Homo sapiens: one gene and its partner. The protein of the gene in region 2 purifies or fractionates together with the protein of the main gene of each other region. This does not show direct contact. Each region holds a gene or a part of one and is shown on either strand. Other genes may lie near its edges.

Region 1 (3,136 bases), on a different chromosome or scaffold from region 2:
GCAGAGGTGTCGAAAAGGCGATCGATCATGTCGCCCACCTGCTCCACCCCGTACTTGATGTACTTCTCCGGGTTCTTGGTGAAGGGCACGCTGCCAAACCTGAGGAGGCACTGTGGTCAGGGGACAGGGAGGGCCGACCCCTCCCCAGCTCCACCCTCAGCCTAAGGCACTCCTGATAGTCTTGGAAGGGGTGGCCCTGAGCGATTCCCTGTCTGGCCCCGCCCCAAAGCCCAGGTCGCTGGATCTGCTGCCTAAATCCACCACCCTTCTCCTTTTTCCCTTGAGGAAGAGGAGCTTGAAGAGGCCCACTGGGGCTGTGGGCAGCACAGGCTGGGAGGGGAATGGAGGCCTCACTTCTGTAGAAAGGCCCCGTAGGTCTCCTTGACAATGGTCTTCTGGGCCTGGCGAATCCTGTCCCTCTGCTCTGTGTCTGGAATAGCCCAGGCCTTCTGGATTTTGCACAGTTCTTCGAGGCCATCATTGAAGCCCTGGCCACCAAAAAGGTGAAAAAGGAAGGCACCCAGAGACAAACATTTTGGGTCTGTGTTGCCTCAACAGCAGCAGCAAGCAGTGGAGGGGAGAGGACCCCGACTCACCTTAAAACGCTCCTTGATAATCTGCCGCTCCTTGTCCCGGAGCTGGGAAGCCAGGAGAGATAGCAGAGAAAGCTCACTTCAGAGCAGAGCAGCCTTCCCCCACTCTTCCCCAAACACCCTTGGTCTGGGCCTGTCTCCTGTGTCCTGATGGCCACATGCATCCTTTGCTCTCTGATCCCAGAGGGATGCTTGTCCACTTTTTCCCAGAGACACGACAAAAAGTATCCCGTCTGCCAGACACCCCTTCCCAGCCCAGGTCTTGAGCCCACCTTGACTCCCGGCTGGAACACAGGTAGATTCTTCTCTGCGATGTAATCAGTCACCTTTAACCAGCTGCCAGACAGAAAGAGAAGCATGAGGGCAGAGGGTGGCCTGCCTCAGTGGCCTGGCTTGTTTCGTTTGCTAAATCTCTGGATCTACTTGGTGGGTGGTGGTAGGAAGGGATGTGGGTCACAACTAAGCAAACAACAGGTTTTCTTCCTGGGAAGAGAAAATCTTTAAACTGGTCACTTTTTGAGATAACATTAGGAAACACTTGAGTGTTCAATAAATTGGACAAATACTGTCAACTATACTTCACATCAATATCGTGGCAAACTAAGATGGAGAAACAGATGAGAAAGAAAGGAGTGGAGGGCAGATAAATGAGAAGGAAGAGGTAGACACATTCAAAGGGAAGAAACAAAGCCAGGAAGAAAGAGGACCAGAGAAGCAGCGGGATCCTCACAGAGCAAGGCTCAGCCACGTTCAAGTGCTCTCGCGACCTTGCTCTTCTCCTAGGTAAACATTACCCACGTCTCTGAGAGCCAGCTCTTCAATCATTCTTAGCCTTGACACTTGGCAGACTCCCCTCTAAAGTGGCCATAGTGGGCCCCTAGGAGCAGGTAGTGGTAGAGGAGGGGGCTTCTCTCTCCACCCCGTGAGTTTGATTAGAAACCAAGTGGAGGATTAGGGTCCAGAGGACAGGAGTTCCCCGTGACCGACTCTGTGTCCTGAGGTGCTGAGAAGGAAGAGTGCGTGGTGGCACAGGGGCCCATGCAGGAGCAGGGCGGGCCCAGCCTCTCACCTGCGCTGGTAGGTCTGGATCTGCTGCTCAATGTGCTCCCGGTAGGAGCGCTCAGCAGTCTTCTGTGTCACTGCCACCAGCTGGATCAGTTCAGACCTGGGTCGGGGTAGGGGACAGAGGAGAGGAGGACAGGATTGGCTCCTCAGGCCCAAAGGCTGCGGCAATGCCGGGAGGGCCTCCCATTGCACCCCAAACTCCACAAGCTCTATGGCATCCCACCTTCCGGGTCCTGGGGTGGAGGAGACTGAAGCACCCCCTCCCCTCTCGTCCACAAGAGAAGGAGCCCAGGGGGGCAGGGGCTGGCACAGCTGCACAGCCGAGGGGAAGGTGAGAGCCGCAGACTCACTCCCGCAGGCCACTTACTTCTCCAGGGACTTGAGGATGTAATTGTAGTTGTTGTGCAGGAAGATGGCGCTCAGAGCTGGGTCCTCGTACACCTTGGACTTGCTCAGCAAGTTCAACTGCAGGTTGCCCAGCACTTTACCTGCACAGGGAAAAATGGGGCCACACCCACCATGGCAGTCTGACCCAAACGACCCCACCCCAGGACCCGCGAACGCGCTCCTATCCATCGCTCCTCGTCCTGCCTCAGGAGGCCTTAGCCCAACTCCCCTCAGCCTCTGAACTAGAGGTCAGGTTGTGGTTCCAAAGATCAGATGGCACTTAGGAGAGGGCCCTGGGAATAGCCAGAGAGCACAGACAGAAGGAAGGGAAAGGCAGGGCATGCAGGCAGCAGGGCTGCTGGTCTGCCCGGGAGAACACTCACAGATATAGGTGCTTAGCAGCCGCTTGCTGAACTCAGAGCTGTAGCTGGTGGCCGAAGAGCTGGTCTCTGTGAGAGGAGAAGTCCTGTTATTGCAGTGGCAGCAGCCAAGACCCTCAACGGCCCTTCCCCCAGGCCATGCAGCAGTCTGAGGGGACACTGAGACAGGCCCTGGGCTTCCTTGGGCAGAGCTGGCTGCCTGCTAAGCCACAGGGTGGCCCCTGCCGCAGGAAGCACCAGCCCTGGAGTTTTTGGAACCCAGAGCTGCCCTCTATGATGGGATGGAGCTGGCCCATGTCAGCAGAAAAGCTGGCAGGAAAAGAGTGAGATGCCAGCGCCCTGTCCCCTCCTGCCCCCACCCACCCTGGGTGGTTTCTACAAGGCCCCCTTTTTCCTTTTGTCAACAGCAGAGTCTTAGAATGGGCTCCCCACAGCCTCTCCACCTTCTCCCCTACATTCGAACATCCCCTCTACCAGACCCTACTGAACAGACGAAGCTGCGGCCTGCACAGTGGGGAAGGCCGAGTGGGGACAGCAAGGCAGGGAGGCCGGGCGAGCCTAGGGGGTGTATCCAGGGCTCTAGCCTGGGCAGGTGCTGCGGATAAGCTCAGAGACAGAGTGGCCTTGAAGGGAGCAGAGAGAGTTGAGAGCACCCCGAGAAAACTCATGTCCCCTCTGACTCAGGCTCCCCAGTAGGTACTGAGAGTCAGT
Region 2 (3,500 bases):
GTGGGAGCCCTTTCTCTCCTCTCCCCAGGGCCCACACGTCCCAGAGCATGGCAGGTTTCTCGGATGGAAGAGAGTGGGTCACTCTTGGTGCAGGGTGGGAGATACGAAGTCGGGGGTTCAGGAGGCCCCAGGTGGGCCCTGGGGTCCTAGGTCACGGGAAGCACACCAAGAGCGAGCAGGCAGGGTCACTGTACAGGGCGGAGAGGGGAGGAGACGGGACACGGGAGGCTGCAGGGCCGGCCACCCACTACTTGGCGCCATCATCCGGGTTGCCTTCACCGTCCGTCTTGCCCTCCTCCTCGGTCTTCAGGTCATCTGTGCTCAGCTTCTGCTCTTTTTTTCTCCTCACACACTTGACCACCATCAGCACCAAGATGACCACAGCCAGGAAGCCCCCGACGGAGGCACCCACAATCACGGCCACCGTGGAGTCCCGCTCAGGGGGCTCTGGAAAGGAAGCAGAGCCACTGAGCACCAGGGCTGGGAAAGGGGCCTCCCCCATCACCCCACTACCCGTGGCATGCGTGGAACCATCCTGACTTTACTCTCCTCCACAGACAGGACTTTAGCAAAGCCGAAAAGCAATCCAGTGACTGACCCTGAAGCGCCGCCACCTCCAAATCCCAGGACACCCAAAGCCCCCAGAGGAGCTAGTGTGATGAAGTATTTAAGAGCATGAACTTTAAGATCAAACAGACCCAAATTTGAGTCCTAATTGTACAACTTACGAATTGCGTGACCTTAAGTAACTTATCCTCTCTAACCTCAGTTTTCTAACATGTAAAATGGGCTTAATAATAGTACCTCCCTCAAAGGTTTTCATGAGGATGAGATAATGCATAAACAGAGCTTAGCCCTATGACTGAGACATAGAGGTGCCCAATAAATGAAAGCTGCCATCATCACCATCATTATTATTGCTGTTGTTGTCATTTGAAACAGGGTCTTGCTCTGTTGCCCAAGCTGGAGTGCAGTGGCACAATCATGATTCACTGCAGCCTCTACCTGCTGGGCTCAGATGATCCTCTCACCTCAGCCTCCCAAGTAGCTGGGAGTATAGGTGCAAGCCACCATGCCCAGCTAATTTTTGCATTTTCTGTAGAGATGGAGTTTTGCCATGTTGCCCAGGCTGGTCTCGAGCTCCTGAGCTCAAGCTATCTGCCTGCCTCAGCCTCCCAAAGCGCTGTGATTACAGGTGTGAGCCATCACACCAAGCCCCATTATTAAGACTGGGATTATATTCTGTATCATTACCAGGACTCTCTGGGACATGTTCCCAGGTTCTTGAGGACTAGAGGGAAGAAAATGGATTCCTTCTATGCAGCACAAATGGTTGCTCCCATCCTCAGGAGGGCCTGGCCTCCCCAAAGTGCCCTGAGCAAATGCCGCAGAGAGTAGGTGGGTGGGAAAGGTCAGGGCCCCGCAGCTGGCACCCCAGCCTTCACCTTCCATGAGGACCTGCAGATGGATCTTGCCATGGCCACGGTGGCGGTCAGGGGGGTTCATGATGTAGCAGTTGTAAATCCCCTCATCCTCCGGCTGCACGTTTCTCAGCATCACCGACACATCGTACTTGCTGGGGTTCCCTGAGAACTCCACGCGGTCTTGAAACCGCTCCAGCTTCAGGTTAATGATCTTCATGCGGAACTGGAGGAACTGGGGTTGGAGCAAGGGACAGGATGGGTGGCTGGATGAGCAAGGAACTACAAGGACAGTGAGGATGCCCCCTCTTCCCATCCACCCTTTTCCTGGGGAAGAGAGGCAGTTACCTCTGTGAGGCACCTGGATGCGCAGCACACCTTGTTTCAAGAGCCTCCAGAGCACGCAGCCCACCCAGGGTCCTCTGGGGCCCTAGCGCAGTGCCGGGGCCGGTGGTGGGACCAGGGGCTTCATGCCATGGGGCTCCTACCTCCTCCCCTGCCCCTGCCTTCAGCCCAGGACTCACCATCTCCTCAGAGCAGTTGTTGCACTCCTGGTAAGTCCAGTTCAGGGAGAACTGTTTGTGGTTCACTGTGTAGCAGGAGTTGAAGGTGCAGGGCAGGCGGGCGTCAGAGCCATTGAGGACGTTGAGGGTGGCAGGTACTGTGACCTCCATGCTCCGTCCTGGTGGCACTGCAGATGAAGCCACAAGCTGGTGAGGAGTCTGGCTGAAAGGGCTGGGGAGGGGCAAGCCCTCTGTGCCTGGGAGTGTTGGGGGATGAGGCAGAGCAGAGCCACAGGGAGGGGACTGGGTCCCTGACAGCTCCAGTTAATCAGGAGGTGGGAGTTACTGTTATTTGCAACAGGGTCTCTGTTGCCCAAGCTGGAGTGCAGTGGCGCAATCATGACTCACTGCAGCCTAGACCTGCTGGGCTCAGGTGATCCTCTCACCTCAGCCTCCCAAGTAGCTGGGAGTACAGGTGCAAGCCGCATGGAATTGGACTTCGTTCTTCCTGGCAGGGGCCCACTCAGCCTCCCCAGTCCATACTCCTGGAGTGGGCAGGCACATATGGGGCACCAGATGTGGTCTTTGGGGCAAAGCGGGGCCACAGAGCAGGTAGGGGAGGAGAGAAACCAAATCGTCACATCATCTATATCTGTCAAGCCAGGGGCAGCCAAACGGCCTCAAGCCTTTTCTAGAACCACTGTTAGGCACCCCTGCCCCCACCACACTTGCCCCAGTTCTGTCACATGCCAGCAGAAGACCACAGACAAGGGGCTTCACTATGCTTGCCTCAGTTTCCCCCTTATTCTCACCACTTCTAACCATCTTTGCTGGGCCAAAACCCTTCCAGCTGAAACTGCAGGGCTCCCCTGCCGTTCTGTTCTCAGGACAGCAGACTGAGAACAGCTGGAGATTTGGAAGGCCTCGCTCTCCATACCCCAGGGACAGAGCAAAGCTGTGTCCCAGCCCAGCCCAGCCCCCTACCTTCCTCAGGCTTGCAACAGACAAGAAAGAGGGCAGACAAGCTGTGGGAGGGAAGAGGTGCCCCAGAAGGTGAGGCACCATTCCAAGGACCAGCTGATGGGTCTGCAGGGACAGGAGTCCCTCTTGAAGATGTCAACCTGGAGACACCACAGCAAGGAGCTGCTACAGGCAGGCAGGGTGGGAGCTGCTGGTTCTGCAGAGTCCTATTAGGAACACCAGACTGAGGCCAGGAGACTTTGGTGCTGGGGCTGAGAAAGGCCTGTCCCACTCCGACATTCTAAGCAGGACAGAGCCTACAGGGAGGCGAGCGAGGGGCCTGGGGCAAGACACTTAAGGGGCATCCACTGCCTGGTCATGGAAATACCTCCTTAAATGTCACGCCCTAGGCACCTCACTGGACTCACCTGAGCCCTGGCCTTCATTCCAAGATGCTCTGCCCGTATCCTCAAGAACCTTATCTCAGAAGATTCCTTTTCTTTATGGAGGATAAACAGCAGTGTTCAGCATCATTCATTCACTCATTTACCAAATATTTATAAATCACCTACTGTGTGCCAGGCACTTAGTCTAGGCCCTGGGGGTTACTGCTGTG

The links. The genes of interacting proteins can lie anywhere in the genome.
Region 1: the proteins of SCN2B (region 2) and EXOC7 purify together in Homo sapiens (affinity purification with mass spectrometry; 4 studies listed by BioGRID and IntAct, with this or other methods). This does not show direct contact.

The regions. Positions count from the first base shown.
Region 1 is NC_000017.11:76,083,652-76,086,787, forward strand, and holds part of EXOC7 (exocyst complex component 7), read right to left. Parts: intron 2,495-3,136; coding exon 2,429-2,494; intron 2,147-2,428; coding exon 2,026-2,146; intron 1,759-2,025; coding exon 1,663-1,758; intron 930-1,662; coding exon 866-929; intron 639-865; coding exon 597-638; intron 489-596; coding exon 355-488; intron 100-354; coding exon 1-99. UniProt on the Homo sapiens protein: Component of the exocyst complex involved in the docking of exocytic vesicles with fusion sites on the plasma membrane.
Region 2 is NC_000011.10:118,166,640-118,170,139, forward strand, and holds part of SCN2B (sodium channel regulatory subunit beta-2 precursor), read right to left. Parts: intron 2,113-3,500; coding exon 1,946-2,112; intron 1,657-1,945; coding exon 1,446-1,656; intron 448-1,445; coding exon 248-447; 3' UTR 1-247. UniProt on the Homo sapiens protein: Regulatory subunit of multiple voltage-gated sodium (Nav) channels directly mediating the depolarization of excitable membranes.